2 separate regions of the Homo sapiens genome follow, and region 1 is linked to region 2. Evidence: fine-mapped expression QTL. A gene starts in region 2. The other region holds a variant in brackets. All regions are shown on one strand. Distances are between the middles of the regions.

Region 1 (8,337 bases), 470 kb before region 2:
TACAAAAAATTAGCCGGGCGCAGTGGTGGGCGCCTGTAGTCCCAGCTACTCGGGAGGCTGAGGCAGGAGAATGGTGTGAACCTGGGAGGCGGAGCTTGCAGTGAGCCGAGACTGAGCCACTGCACTCTAGCGTGGGCGACGGAGCGAGACTCTGTCTCAAAAACAAAACAAAACAAAAAAACAAAACAAAAACGCAAGATAAAAATACTCTGATGAAGATATTTAGGAGAGCCTCCTAGGAAGGAGCGATCTTGTGGCTGCCTGAAGAAAAAAGGTTACATTTCATCAAATCTATGGTCAGGACCTTTTTTTTTTTTTGAGACACGGTCTTGCTCTGTCGTGCAGGCTGGAATGCAGTGGCATGATCTTGGCTCACTGCAGCCTCCTCCTCCCAGGTTGAAGCGATTCTCCTGCCTCCGCTTCCGGAGTAGCTGGGATTACAGGCGCGCGCCACCATGCCCGGCTAATTTTTAAAATTTATTTATTTTTAGTAGAGATGGGGTTTCACCATGTTGGCCAGGCTGGTCTTGAAGTCCTGTACGGCCAGGACCTTCTATAGACAAATGCCACTGGAAACTTCTATCTAAGGCTGAGTCCACTGATTGGGAGCCCTAGAATCCGAAATTTCCTAGCATCTTCCTTTTCTTTGTCTTCCATCTGATCCTTCACAGTCCTCCCCCATTCTTTTTCTGTTGCCCAGGCTGGTCTTAAACTCCTGTGCTCAAGCAGTCCTCCTACCTCAGCCTCCCAAAGTGCTGGGATTACAGAAATGAGCCACTACGCCCGGCCCCATCATAGAATTCTATATTAGGCCAAACTTTCAGTCAGGTGTGAGGAAAGAATTAAGATAAAAGATAAGAATTTTCAGGATAATGGTGATAAAAAAATCTAGGGGAAACAGCTTTGAGCAAGCTTAGGACAGGGGTCAACAAACCTTTTTTGTAAAGAACCAGAAAGTAAATATTTCAGGTTTTGCAGGCCATATGGTCTCTGCTGCAACTGCTCAACCCTGCCAGGGTAGCACCAAGGCAGTCATAGACAATACTCAAGCAAAGGAGCTGTGTCTAATAAAATTTTATTTATGACTGAAATTTGAATTTCATATACTTTTATGTTTTTCTTTTTTTTAAGATGGAGTCTCACTCTGTCGCCCAGGCTGGAGTGCAGTGGCATGATCTCAGCTCACTGCAACCTCCGCCCACCCCCCAAGTTCAAGTGATTCTCCTGCCTCAGCCTCCTGAGTAGTTGGGATTACAGGCGCCTGCCACGGCGCCAGGCTAAGTTTTGTATTTTTAGTAGAGACGGGGTTTCCCCATCTTGGCCAGGCTGGTCTTGAACTCCTGACGTCGAGATCCATCAGCCTTGGCCTCCCAAAGTGCTGGGATTACAGGCATGAGCCACTGCGCCCGGCCAAATTTGATATACTTTTCATGTGTCACAAAATATTGTTCCTCTTTTGATTTTTTTTTAACTGTTAGAAGTTATAAATCATTCTTAGCTCACAAGCTCTATAAAAGCAGTAGTTTGCTGACCTGAGGCTCACAGCCAGTGAAGACTGCCGCAGAAGGACAGGACAGAGGGCTTCAGCAACAATGTCTCTAAGGAAAAACGGAAATAGATAAACTGCCTAGTGTGTTTGACCATTCTGAGCAGAGTTTTACTGTTCTGTAAACTTGTGGCCAAATTGCTGGTAAGTGCTTAAAAAAATAAGCATATAAAAAATAGCTAGGAAAAAAGTTGTATAAGAAAGGAAATGTAATCTTAGTAGCACTAAATGTTAAGCTGTTAAACAATATTTAAAGTATAAGCATTGGCTGGGCATGGTGGCTCATGCCTATAATCCCAGCACTTTGGGAGGCCGGGAGGCAGGAGGATCACCTGAGGTCCCGAGTTTGAGACCAGCCTGGCCAACAGGGCAAAAGCCTGTCTCTACCAAAAATACAAAATTTAGCCAGGCATGTGGCTGTAGTCCCAGCTATCTGGGAGGCTGAGGCAGGAGAATCTCTTGAACCCGGGAGGCAGAGGTTGCAGTGAGCCGAGATTGTGCCACTGCACTCCAGCCTGGGCAATAGAACGAGAGTCCATCTAAAAAAAAAAAGTATAAGCATTGACAATTTATTTAACCAAAAATGATGATGTAGGTATACTAGGAAGAAGGAGAGAAAGTGGGCCAGGTGTGGTGGCTCATGCCTGTAACCCAGCACTTTGAGAGGCTGAGGCAGGCAGATCACCTGAGGTCGGGAGTTCAAGACCAGCCTGACCAACATGGAGAAATGCCATCTCTACTAAAAAAATACAAAAATTAGCCGGGCGTGGTGGTGCATGCCAGTAATCCCAGCTACTTGGAGGCTGAGGCAGAAGAATCGTTTGAACCCAGGAGGTGGAGGTTGCGGTGAGCCGAGATCGTGCCATTGCACTCCAGCCTGGGCAACAAGAGTGAAACTCTGTCTCAAAAAAAAAAAAAAAAAAAGGGAGAGAAAGTGAATGGAAGTCAGTATTTGTCTAAATTTATATAGTGCCTACACTTGAAAAAAAAATCATGAAATAATAGTATGAATGTTACTTAGAAATATGGAGGTAAATACCAGAAGAAATAATTACAAGACTTAATAGTGTTGCCTCTGACAATTGGGAGTCAGGATTACAGAGGGGTGGTTTAAACTGGACTGCTATTTTTTTTTGTTATTTCTTTCTAATTCTAATAAGGCTTGTATTGTATTTGACTTTCAAACTTTGGTATGTACCATTAGCTGGAAAATTTGAGTACCACCATTCTGAAACAGGGCCATTTCTTTCTAGTCCTTTCCTGTTGGCTGTTCCAGTGTCTATGCATACAAATTTCTAGAGTCCTACACAAGCCAATGTCTGTCATTTTGGGAATTATTTTTCAATGATAAAGATGTCTAGGAACTAAGTCATATTTCTTTCTCTCTCTCTCTCTCTCTCTGTGTGTGTGTGTGTGTGTGTGTGTGTGTGTGTGTGTCTGACTTGGGTTATTAGTGCTTCTATCTAATCTCCTTCTAATTAAATACAGTAATTGGCACATGCAGAGGATTAAGGAACCATGCAAAATCTGTCAGGGTAGAAAGATGCAGTCTGAGATAATTCCTAGATAGTTAGTTGTTCCATCCAAAAATAATCACAGCTCTTGCGAAAGTGGAGAATAGCAAATTTCTACCTCAGTCAAAACAAGAACACAAAAAATTAAGGTTTGTTTTAGTATCATTACTTAATTAAAAGCATTAGGTACTTTCCAGAGGATAATTGCCCAAATTGAAAGAGTATATAGCAGTCTTCCTTTAGCTTAAAATACGTATACTTATCCCCTTTCCAAAAGCATAATGAGACCTACAAATTCTTTTTGCTGGATTAGGTGGGATTTTAATTGTTAACACTGAATAGAAGCTCATTCTTTTGTGATTCCTTAAAGCATTTTTCCTTTTGTTTTGAGACAGGTTCTTGCTCTGTTGCCCACGCTGGATTGCAGTGGTGTGATCTCAGCTCTCTGCAGCTTTGACCTCCTGGACTCAAGCAATCCTCCTGCCTCAGCCTCCTGAGTAGTTGGAACTACAAGGGCGTACCACCATGCCCAGCTGGTTTTTTTATTTTTAGTTGAGACAGGGTTTCACCATGTTGCCTAGGTGGTCTCAAACTCCTGAGCTCAAGCAATTTACTGGCCTTGGCCTCCCAGAGTGGTGAAATTACAGGTGTGAGCCACTGTACTCGGCCCTTATGTTTTGTGTGTGTGTTTTTTTTTTTGTTTTATGTTTTTGTTTTTTTTTTTTTGAGACGGAGTCTCGCTCTGTTGCCTGGCCAGGCTGGAGTGCAGTGGCATGATCTCGGTTCACTGCAACCTCTGCCTCCCGAGTTCAAGCGATTCTCCTGCCTCAGTCTCCCGAGTAGCTGGGACTACAGGCACACACTACCACGCCCAGCTAATTTTTGTATTTTTAGTAGAGATGGGGTTTCGCCATGTTGGCCTGGCTGGTCTTGAACTGCTGACCTCAGGTTATCCGCCTCCCTCGGCCTCCCAAAGTACTAGGATTATAGGCATGAGCCACCATGCCTGGCCTATGTATTTTTTAAACTAGTTTTTTTCTTACA[C/T]TGCTTTCTCAAATAATCTGAAAAATCATTAGAAACATAAACATATAGGCAAAGGGCGGTGGTTCAAAGTGCTGTAATCCCCAGCACTTTGGGAGGCTGAGGTGGAGGTGGGAGGATGCCTTTAGCCCAGGAGTTTGAGACCACTCTGGGCAACACAGTGAGAGTCCCAACTGTATGAAAAAAAGAAAAAAAAAAAATCCTGGCGTGGTGGCTCACCTATAGTCCTAGCCACTCTGAAGGGTGAGGCGGGAGGCTCACGTGAGCACAGGAGCTTGAGGCTGCAGTGACCCATGACTGCGCCACTGTACTCCAGCCTGGAACACAGAGCGAGAAACTGTTTCCAAAAAAAAGAAAAAAACAACATAAATATCCTAAATAACTCTATGATCTCTAGAAATTACTCTCATTTTTACTTACATCTTCTTTTCATTAAGAAAAGATTTCTAGGCTAAGGAACCAGCAAACTGGTACATCTGGAGCTCTTGATAACAAATCAAACAATAATAAAGGTCATATTATAGGCCGTGCATGGTGGCTCACGCCTGTAATTCCAGCACTTTGGGAGGCCAAGGTGGGTGGATGGATCACTTGAGGTCAAGTTCGAGACCAGACTGGCAAACACAGTGAAACCCCATTTCTACTAAAAATATAAAAATTGGAATGAGGTTCAGTCTAAGAAAAAACCCCCAAACCAAAACCGAAACCAACCAACCAAACAAACAAACAACAAGAGGAAGTATACTGTAGGGGTTAAGGATGAGGACCAGGGAGTTATACTGCATAGGTTCAAATCATGGCTCTACTATACTGTCATAACTTATTTATGACCTTCAAGAGATTCTTAGCCTTTCTGTGTCAGTTTCCTCCCCTGTGAAATAATAATATTAATAGGAACTTACTTCAGAGTTTTGAGGAGTACATGAGTAAATCATGTAAAGTATTTACAGTGCCTGGCAGGCAATAAGTTTTATCATTATTATCATTATTATTCTTTGATTCTTTTTTTTTTGCTGCTTGAGATTACTATATCAGATTTTTTAAAATACAAGTTTAATTCAACAACATATAGTGATAACTTGCTATGAAAATGAATAAGACACATTCCTGCCCTCCAAGAGTTTACAGTGGGGAGAGATGGGTAAGCAGAAAGTAAACAGGTATACAATAGTGTATGGGTTATGATGGGATATGTATATGATATTAATGGAGAAATAAAGCAAGGGTACATAATTCTCCCATAAGGGTTGAGGTTTTTGGAAAAGGTTTTGCCTAAGCTGAGCTTTGATGAAGGGGCTAGGTTAAGGTGGGCCTAGGGAGGACTCATCCCATCAGAGGGAATAACATGGAAACATTTCAGAGAAAGGTATGTCAGGGGATTCAGACAAGACTCAGTGTGACTAAAGCATATCCTGCAACGTAAAGTTTTGTCAGGGGGCAATGAGTGATGAAGCTGGAGGGTGGATAAGGACCAAGACATCAGAAACAATAATGGATTTTAAGCAGATAATTGTCATGCTCGTATTTCTTCTTTAGAAAGAATGGTTTGGCAGCATCGTGGAAATTGGATTTATGGGACCATGACTGAAGACAAAGAGACCACTTACAAACCTACTGCAACTGTCTAGGGGATGAGGACCTGATTATAGGAGCGACAGTAGGGTATCTAAATACATCTAACTGCTTATGTTCTATGTTCAAAGTCAGAAGTTCAGGGGAAAGACACTAGAGAAATACTGCACTCATAAGTGTATAGGTAGCTTGAGAAAATAACAACACTAGAAATGAGTGAAATTACCCAGAGAAATATGTGGAGTGAAAAGATCTATGAGCTGATTACCAAACTTTGAGAAACACCATGTATAAGGAGTGGGTAGAGAAAGAACTAGAAAAGGCATGGCCAGGAAGGTGAAAAGAATGCAGAGACAATGGAGCTCCTATTGGAGTAGAGGGTTATAAAAAAAGAGGGTGTGGGAGGCTGGGTGCGGTGGCTCACACCTGTAATCCCAGCACTTTGGGAGACTGAGGTGGGTGGATCACCTGAGGTCAGGAGTTCGAGACCAGCCTGACCAACAGGGTGAAACCCTGTCTCTACTGAAAATAGAAAAATTAGCCAGGTGTGGTGGAGTGTGCTGTAATCCCAGCTACGCGGGAGGCTGAGGCATTAGAATCACTTGAATCTAGGAGGTGGAGGTTGCAGTGAGCCAAGATCACGCCACTGCACTGGGTGCACACCACACCTGGGTGTGGGCCAATGTGAGTATGAATCAGAAATATTTCTCTGATTAATTTACCCTGTCTCTTCTCCTTACCATCCCCCTCCGTTCTGTCCTCTAACTTCAGTTGCCTTCACTTTTTTCATTTTTGTCTTTCACTATTGTCTATTTTCCTTTACTGTTTTTACTTAGAAAAATTTCAAGGCTCCAGGAAATAAAAAATTTACAATAGTATAATAAGCACTCATATACAGTTCACCTAGATTTACCAATTGTCAATTGCCGTCTTTGTACACACACTCTTTCTGTACGTATGTACAAATATATACATACATAAATTTTTTTAGTTTTGGATTGAATAGATTTAGTTGCAGACATCATGATACTTTACTCTTAGATACTTTAGCTTTTGTTTTCTAACATAAACATGGAAATTTTCCAACAAAACCACAATCAGTCAGGAAATTTAACCTTGTTATGAAATGATCTAATAAACAGCCCATATTCGGATTGCCCCAATTGTCTCAATATCCCTTATAGCTTCTCCCACCCTGGTTCCACATGCATTTAGCAGTAGTGTCTCTTTAGTACCCTTTAATTCATAACAATTCTCCAGCTTTTTTATTTATGTATTTGCTTCTTCATATTTATAATTTTGAAGAGTCCAAGTCAGTCGTTTTGGAGAATGTTTCTTAGTTTGGGTTTGCTGAGTGTTCCTTCAATGATTCTCCTGCCTTCAGTCTTTCTCCTTGCCAGTTCATTTTCCATACCAGAACTGATACTTTAAAACAAAATGAGATCTAGATATTCCCTTGCTTAAAAGTATTTGAAGGTTCCTTTACTCACAAAATTAAATTCCTTAGCATGCCTTTCAAAACTTTTCACAACTTAGCTCTAATGGCCCTTTGCCATAGTCTCTTCTAGTGACTAGCGGTTTGTACTTCCAGGTATACTAAACACCAAATACTTTCTGTTTCTTTCTATCAGCCTTTCCTTCTGTTTAGAGTATCCTCTTCCAAGTCAACTTATACCTAGCCTTCAAGATTCTGTTATTTTATCTTATAGATATTAGTTGAGTGCTTATAATCCACCAAGTACTATGCTAGGTGCTGGCATACAATCCTGAACAACACCAACATAGTCTTTGTCCTTCTAGAATTTTTTTTTTTTTGGGGGGGTGGACAGAGTCTCGCTCTGTCACCCGGGCTGGAGTGCAGTGGTGTGATCTCAGCTCAATGCCACCTCCACCTCCTGGGTTCAAGCGATTATCCTGCTTCAGCCTCTTGAGCACCTGGGATTATAGGGGCGTGCCACCACACCCGGATAATTTTTGTATTTTTAGTAGAGATGGGATTTTGCCATGTTGGCCAGGCTGGTCTTGAACTCCTTACCTCAAGTGATCCGCCCGCTTCATCCTCCCAGAGTGCTGGGATTACAGGTGTGAGGCACCATGCCCAGCCTCCTTACAGAATTTATACTGGCTGAAATGTCATCTCTTTTGCACTTCTATAGCACTTTATACACATCTTTATTATAAAATGTATTACATTTCATTGTAATTTTTGCTTGTATGTTTGTCATCCTGCTGGACTGTGAGCTTTTCAAGGGTGTGACAAATTTCATTCATCTTTGTTTTCCCAGCATCTAGAATACAGCAGGAGCTAAATAATGTTTCATTCAATAAAGAATGAAAAGAAGCATTCCTGCTAAGTGTTAGCTAGCAAGTGTTATTTTAGTTAAGGAATATATTCTAATATTGTCAAATTCTCTTGGTTAGGGAGGTTTTTACTTCTTCATATCATACCACATCTTCATATGGCTAAAAGATGGGTCTAAAGCTATTTTCCAATAGGAAGATGCAATAAATAATACAGTAAGAATTACAGTCTTTTGCAGGAGTTGGCGCTGCTGCTTCTGTGAAAACTCCACCCAATGATATGAAAAGTTCTTTGCGGCCGAGCGTGGTGGCTCACGCCTGTAATCCCAGCACTTTGGGAGGCTGAGGCTGGTGGATCACGAG
Region 2 (8,337 bases):
ATTACAAGCGTCAGCCACTGCGCCCAGCCAATTAAGAATATTTTAATCATTTCCAGGCCTCTCAAAATGGAGCCCCTTATTATACATAAATCTACCTTTTTTTTTTTTCTTTTGAGACAGAGTCTTGCTCTGTCACCCAAGCTGGAGTGCAGTGGCATGATCTCGGCTCACTGCAACCTCCACCTCCCAAGTACAAGCGATTCTCCTGCCTCAGCCTCCCGAGGAGCTGAGACTATAGGCGTGAACCACCATGCCTGGCTAATTTTTTTATTTTTAGTAGAGATGGGGTTTCGCCATGTTGACTAGGCTGGTCTTGAACTCCTGATCTCAGGTGATCCACCCGCCTCAGCCTCCCAAAGTGCTGGGATTACAGGTGTGAGCCACCATCCCCGGCCTCTTTTTTTTTTGAGATAGGGTCTCACTCTGCTGCCCAGTGATGTGATTAAGGCTCACTGCAGTTTTGACCTCCCCGGCTCAAGCTATCCTCCTGCCTCAGCCTCCCAAGTAGCTAGGACCACAGGCATGTGCCACCACACTCAGCTAATTTTCCATTTTTAGTAGAGACGAGGTCTCACTATGTTGCCCAGGCAGGCCTCAAACTCCTGGGCTCAAGCAATCCTCCTGCCTCGGCCTCCCAAAGTGCTGGGATTATAGGCATGAGCCACTACCCCTAGCCATAAATCTACTTTCAAACATCTGACTTTCAAATATAGTCTCAGGAATGAATAACGCAGAAACTTCCTGTTTAACCTTATGACTGCAGTACAATTTGCAAAAGAAACACTTTTTCACATCAGAATAATTGCATACATTTATCAAGAAGGGATAATGAAGTAACACAAATAGTAAGCTAATTTTTGTTTAATGCACATACACACTTAAAATTAAGAGCACATATATATCTTATTTGGTTTCCTGACGATAGTACAAAATACTACTTTCATAATATGTTATTAAACCCACCCTTAAAAGGAGAACACTTTATTTTACCATAATTGTGTTTTTCCAACACCTGGTGCACCACAAATTTCTGTTGTTTTCATTAAGGGCACTCCACCCCCAAGAATATCATCTAGTGCTGAACAGAAGGTGATTATGAAGCCCTGGGTATGCTCCTGCTCAAGAAGTTCCAGTGCTGTACACTTCTTGTGTGACTCAGATGTACCAGCATATCTTGGTTTATTTGTGAGACATTCTCTTCTGATAATTTGCAGAGTTTCTAAGGCTTCTGCTTTAGATATCCCAACTTCTGAAAGTAAAATAAGAAAAAAAGAACCCTAATTTTAGAGATTTAAAAGTGTAACATGATAATCGATTGTCTTTATTAATTTGTAGACAACAGTGATGCTAGGAGTGGAGAAACATAAAAATGCAACATTCTATCAACCATTTAATTTTTCAGTTTGGCCGGACACAGTGGCTCATGCCTAAAATCCCAGTACTTTGGGAGGCTGAGGCAGCCAGATCACCTGAGGTCAGGAGTTGAAGACCAGCCTGGCCAACATGGTGAAACTCCGTCTCTACTAAAAATACAAAAATTAGCCGGGCATGGTGGCACGCGTTATAATTCCAGCTACTTGGGAGGCTGAGGCAGGACAATCACTTGAACCTGCACCACTGCACTCCAGCCTGGATCGCACCACTGCATTCCAGCCTGGATGACAGTGCGAGACTCCGTCTCAAAAAAAAAAAAAAAAAAATTCAGCTTAATAAAGGTATTCGTTTTCTTAGTCATCACATAAAGAATTACCTATTACCTCAGAAACAATTCAACTAAAGCATTTCTGAGTACCTACAAGTGTCTCAGGAAGCAGAAATAAAAATGTACTCACTATTACCATATTTTTACTATCCCTTTTGGTCTTATGAAGCCATAATTATCTCGCTCTCATAAGGTATACAAATTATTTTTCAGATGAGAATGAAAATAGATGTTTTAACTGCCTAAAACAAGGTACAACTTTAAGAAGCACATATGCATGTATTATTTATAATAAAAACTTTTCATGGAAATAACTGATGTAAAAAATTCATGTATCACTCCAAACTAATGAGAACAATTATTCAAGGCACAAGCATTTTAAAGAATACATTTATGCTTCCTCGACTACACAATTTCACCCATCTGACAGTGTGGCCTGAGAAAAGAAAATGGCAATTACAAAACAAGCTGGTGAAGAAATAATGGTGAGGATGACATCACTTATCAGTTTGATATATCAGTGCTTGATCTGATAAGAATATGAGCCATAAATATGGGGCTAATAAAAGACAATGGTGATGACAGCATTTAGGAAATGAAAATCCTATCAAGAGCCTGAATGCTGGAATTAGATTGCCTGGGTTTGTAAATCCTGGCACCACTTACTGCATGACTTTGGGCAAGTTACTTCACTTTTTCTTTTTTGCTCAGATTTTTTTCGTCTATAAAATGGGAATGAGACGATACATGTAAAAAGCTTGGTAGAATATCAAGACCATCTAAAGTAGTCAATAGTTGTTAGTGATCATTATTATTCAGGGTCTCACATTTCTTCTTTGAAAAGCCAACTTGTTGAAGAAAAAAGAGCCCATCAAATCTTGGGGGACACAGTCTGCGCGCGGTATGACTTAAACAGTTAAGGCTGGGTCCACGAGACTTATTCTTTAGAGGCGAATTGAAACCTCTGTATTTTCCATCAGTAAGGGCAGTAACTTAAAATTCTGTTCCATCTTCTTCAGTGAATAGCACAGGTCCAGACATGTCATAGAGAGATGTGCACAACAAGTGACCACCGCCAGCCTCATATTTGTATGTCTCAGGATGCAGTGGTTCCCATCTGCAATGCTCTGGAATATGAGGTTTTGGGTGTTTCAGTTAATTACGTAAGAGAATATTCTTTCTATGCTTCCTCAAGATTCCGGGGATTCTACTCTCTTTCTCATTCTTAGTGTCTCTAGTCCTACACAAAATCCTGCATTTCTGAAATTTAACCCTTACCCCTTGGATCTTGGAACAGCAAAAATTAGACAACCAATTCTGACTCCAGTATTTCCTAACCCAGTTAGCATGAAAAGTTACCTAAGCTCCCCAAGATATCAGTTCTCTCATCCATATACTGAATATAATAATCTACGTAAGCGGGTTGAGGGTTAAATGAGACAATCCTCAAAGCATTCAGCAGGCATTGCCAGAGGAAAAGCAATTAGTAAATGTTTTCACGACCACAGTTCTCCTAACCATTCAGACAACTTGTAAGTGGAGTCGAGGAGCTCTTTCACGCTGTAAACATGGACGTGGGAGGAAGCAGAATCTAACGGAGACTGGGCTGAAGGCCGAGGCGAGAGAACGAAGACTGAGGCGGCGCTGACGGCGGCCGGTGTGCCTCAGCTTGCCATCAGGAGTCGTTACCTTTGCTAAGCTCGGAGGGTTTCACCTCTAGGAGTTCCTCAGCAGTCTGGAACCCCGCAGACACCAGCTTCACCCGCACCGCTGGAGACAGCGGGAAACTCACCAAATCCCGCTGCATTTCAAAGCGGAACGTCTTCCCGCGCATCGCAGGCTCACCTGCTAACCCCGGAGCAGCCAAACTCCGCACGCCCTCGCTGGGGCGTGCGGCGTGACGTCAGACGTAAAGCGGAAGGGGCCGGCTCTGCGGCCTGGCCGCACGGGGCTCCGGGCCTTGCAGCTTTGCGCAGTCTTGTAAATTTTCACACTTATGCACCATTCCGTTTTGATTCCCCAAAATCCCATTTAGAGATTCCTCATCAAATGTACACCCTGACTGTAAAACGATGGACGGAGACCATAGGACGGAGAGCCAGGCCCAGTGGGTTCTCCACGCCACATTTCCTTGCCTCCACCGTGGCCTGTTAGGTGAAGCCTCAGAGTCATTAATAGGAATGATCTCGAGTGGGAGTAGTGAGCGTAACGGGCACACACTAGCCAGTTACCATTATTTTGGTGTGAAAAGCTCAGGGAACAATCATTAGAATTAATCTGCGTGCTCTTTGTAGAGTTGCAGTCTCTTGGCTCTTCCCGCTGACCGTCCCCCTTTTCTGACCCCCCCCCCCCGCAACGACCACATTGCTTTTCCCGCCCTCGCGAGGGATTGTGGGCCAGCCCCCAACGGCCGCTGGGAGGGATCAGTCCGCATTCCCCGCACCCACCCACGTCTTCCCGGGAGTCGTATCCCGAGCATGGAGGTTACTGAGACCGTTATTTCTTCATGGCCTGCCTAGCTTAAGCAGTAGCTGGAAAAGTAAGCAACTAATGTCCCCATTAGTGTGTCTGGGCTCCTGGGGTCCTGAGAAGGAGGGGCTGGGCTACACAAGAGCTCCTTTTGTGGTACAGACTTGGGAAGGGGTGTTCAAGCAGTGGTAGTGACCGCCTCTAAATTACAGAACTTCGGGGAGGAAGGCAAGCAGTTTAGAAGGTGGTTTATGAGTTCCTTCCTTGCCTAGGTGAGTGTAACTTATTTAGCAGGGGGTAACTTATTCCCTACCTATTGGCGATTTTTTTTTTTTTTTTTTTGAGACAGAGTCTCACTGTGTTGCCCATGATGGAGTGCAGTGGCACGATGTCGGCTCACTGCAACCTTCGCCTCCCGGGTTCAAGTGAGTCTCCTGCCTCAGCCTCTTGAGTACCTGGGATTACAGGCGCACGCCACCATGCCCGGCTAATTTTTGTATTATTATTAGAGAAGGGGTTTCACCATATTGGCCAGGCTGGTCTCGAACTCCTGACCTCGTGATCCGCCTGCCTCGGCCTCCCAAAATGCTGGGAGTACAGGCGTGAGCCACCGCGCCCGGCCCTGTTGGCAATGATTCTTAGTCTTGACTTTTCTTCCCAGCTTAGAAGAACTTTCTAAATATTGCAAATCAGAGCCCTCTACATACTTAGATCTAAAAAAGGAAACAACGTATGTTGAGCACTTTAGCAAATCCCACACATTTCAAATGGCCATAGCCATGCCAAAAGGAAGATAAGGACATGGAAGCTCAGCATATAGTTTAATATCAATTCTGATAAAAGAAAAAAAGCTGGCCGGGCGCAGTGGCTCGTGCCTGTAATCCCAGCACTTTGGGAGGTCGAGGCAGGTGGATCTCTTTGAGCTCATGAGTTTGAGACCAGCCTCGACAACATGGCGAAACACTGTCTGTACCAAAAGTACAAAAAATTAGCCGGGCATGGTGGCATGCACCGGTCGTCCCAGCTACTCAGAAGTCTGTGGTGGGAGGATCCCTTCAGCCTGGGAGTGAGCTATGATCACGCCACTGCACTCCAGCTTGGGTGATAGAGTGAAACCCTGTCTCAAACAAACAAAACACCTCAGCACAGTTTTCTTAAAGCCAAGATTCAAACCTAGCATCCTTTTTACTACCCCGAGCTATTAAGATTTTGAGTCCCTACTGGCGGGGAGAATACGAGAAGCATTTATACCCCATTTGGTAGGTCAAAGAAAGTCTTGTAGGACTGGCCAAAATGTGGTTGGCCACTCAACCCATTGCTTAACTTCTAATATGGTCTATATTTGAGCGCTCAGTGGATGCATAAATACTATCTTCAGGGAGATTTCATGCTTATGCTTATAAAGCACCCAGATTCTTGGGTGAAGAAAAAACATGGTATTACCACATTCAACAATAAGTCTTCAGTTAGTTTGGTCAAACTCAGTGGAATCAGTCGTGTTTAGAATTTCTTTCGTTGACAGTGGAAAGTTCAAAACTACTTTGGCCTGGCACAGTGGCTTAAGCCTGGAATCCAAGCACTTTGGGAGGCCAAAGAGGGCACATCGCTTGATCTCAGGAGTTTGAGACCAGCCTGGGCAACAGGGCAAAACCCCATCTCTACAAAAAATACAAAAATTAGCCAGCATGGTGGTACATGCCTCTAGTCCCAGCTACTTGGGAGGCTGAGGTGGGAGAACCAATTGAGCCCGGGAGGTTGAGGTTGCAGTGAGCTGAGATTGCGTAACTCCACTCCAATCTGGGCGACAGAGCGAGACTCCATCTCAAAAACAAAACAAAGCAAAATAAAAAAAACAAAAAAACCCCCACTCAACTCTATCTATAGCTGTATAATTTAAGTGCTATTAATATCTTCTGCAGATCACAAGGTCAGGAGATCGAGACCATCCTGGCTAACATGATGAAACCCCGTCTCTACTAAAAATACAAAAAATTAGCTGGGTGCGGTGGTGGGCGCCTGTAGTCCCAGCTACTCGGGAGGCTGAGGCAGGAGAATTGCATGAACCCAGGAGGCGGAGCTTGCAGTGAGCCTAGATCACGCCACCACATTCCAGCCTGGGCGACAGAGCGAGACTCCATCTCAGAAAAAAAAAAAAAAAAAATCTTCTGGCCCTTGCCTATAATAATTATTTTCATCATCATTCTTAAGATGTCTTTAATGCAATTTGCTCTGTAGTCATGCTTTCAAACTGGGATCCAGGTTTTTGAAACCACGCACTAGGAACTAAACAAAGCTATGGGATAAATATGGAAGGTGCACCTTCTTGTGTAATCACTTTTCTCAAAAAAAATCTTTCAGGGAGGGAAGAGTTAAATGATTTACCTAAGTCATTTGAAATGGTTTATATTAAGCAGACATTACATCTGTGTAGTGTGGATAAATCATTAAAATTTTTGAAAAAGAAAATAAACTTTAATAAAACATGGGGTAGGCCGGGCACGGTGGCTCACTCCTGTAATCCTAGCACTTTGGGAGGCCAAGGCGGGTGGATCATGAGGTCAAGAGATCAAGACCATCCTGGCCAACATGACGAAACCCTGTCTCTACTAAAAACACAAAAATTAGCTGGGCATGTTGATGTGTGCCTATAGTCCCAGCTACTTAGGAGGCTGAGGCAGGAGAATAGCTTGAACCCAGGAGGCAGAGGTTGCAGTGAGTGAGATCAGGCCACTGCACTCTAGCCTGGAAACAGAGAGAGACTCCCTCTAAAAATAAATAAATTAGCTGAGCGTGATGTCTCACGCCTGTTTCACAGCACTTTGGGAGGCCGAGGTGGGCGGATCACGAGATCAGGAGATAGACTATCCTGGCTAACACGGTGAAACCCCATCTCTACTAAAAATACAAAAAATTAGCCGGGTGTGGTGGCAGGCACCTGTAGTCCCAGCTACTTGGGAGGCTGAGGCAGGAGAATGGTGTGAACCCGGGAGGCAGAGCTTGCAGTGAGCCAAGATCATGCCACTGCACTCCAGCCTCTGTGACAGAGCGAGACTCCATCTCAAAAAAAAATATATGTATAGAAATAAAAACAAAATGTGGGGGTAAAATGCAAATATAAAAATAAAATTTAAGAGAAAAGTATGAGGTCAGAGACACATCAGGCTTAAACTGGATACTTCAGTAATCTCCCAAACCCCCCCCGGGAATATGTTTTGGTTTTTCTTGCAACTTGAGGTTACTTCATGAAAAAATTTGAGAGACATTGCTATGGGCAAACCAGCATGGGCTGCGGAGTCACACAGATTTGGATTTGTATCACATGTCTGGAAGTTACCAACTATGTGACCTTCAGCAAGTTACTCAGTCTCCTCACCTGCAAGTAGAAGATAATATCTCCTGGGGTTTTGGTCAAGATTAAATTAACACATATACAGTACTTATCACACAAAAAAGTACATAATAAATCTGAGTCTGTTTCTCAGTTTTTACAGCATTCTAATGCGCATATTCAGTTGGAATAAATCCTTATAGAATACCTAGCTCAGCAGAATGCTAATGCTGAGACGTTTTTTAAAAATGTTTACAATTAGGCCAGACACTGTGGCTCACACCTGTAATCCCATCACTTTAGGAGGCTGAGGCTGGCAGATCACTTGAGGTCAGGAGTTCAAGACCAGCCTGGGCGATGTGGTAAAACCCCGTCTCTACTAAAAATACAAAATTAACTGGGGGTGGTGGAGGGTACCTATAGTCCCAGCTATTTGGAAGGCTGAGGCAGGAGAATTGCTGGAACATGGGAGGCAGAGATTGCAGTGAGCCGATATTATGACACTGTACTCCAGCCTGGGCGACAAGAGGAAAACTCAGTCTCAAAAACAAAACAAAACAAAAAAAGTCTATAATTGTAAAAGTGCCGAAGTAGAGTACTTTTATATATTTTATTTTCTTTGACTTGATCCACAGTAATCCTATGACTGGGGTCTACATTCAGGATTAGCACTCTGAAGACTAGATCACTAAAACAAGATTAAATATTGATTAAATGCTAGTTATGTGCCAGATGACAGGGTAAACAAGATAGATTCTCTGCCCTCATGGAGCTTATAATCTATCAGGATCTTTATTGAGTATTTCTGACATGTTGCATTTCTGACTTGTGTAGCTAT

What was found. PIP is the estimated chance that this variant, and not a neighbour inherited with it, causes the effect.
Region 1: its variant is fine-mapped to the expression of TEX14 in whole blood (TOPMed, PIP above 0.99).

What each region holds. Positions count from the first base shown.
Region 1 is chr17:59,156,860-59,165,196 of GRCh38, reverse strand. The region is part of intron 1 of PRR11 (proline rich 11); the gene reads right to left. Among named protein-coding and RNA genes, the nearest start is that of PRR11, 5.3 kb to the right of the region's middle. RefSeq lists an enhancer at 5,766-6,965. The variant C/T (reference allele first, on the strand shown) is at 4,105.
Region 2 is chr17:58,687,843-58,696,179 of GRCh38, reverse strand. TEX14 (testis expressed 14, intercellular bridge forming factor) reads left to right here and starts at 4,135. Exons shown (of 32, transcript NM_031272.5): 1 at 4,135-4,241. IGBP1C (IGBP1 family member C) reads left to right here and starts at 4,135. Exons shown (of 2, transcript NM_001395966.1): 1 at 4,135-4,241. It overlaps RAD51C (RAD51 paralog C), which reads right to left and starts at 3,578. Exons shown (of 9, transcript NM_058216.3): 1 at 3,392-3,578; 2 at 991-1,249. The coding sequence starts at 3,536. RefSeq lists enhancers at 3,221-3,390, 3,721-3,820.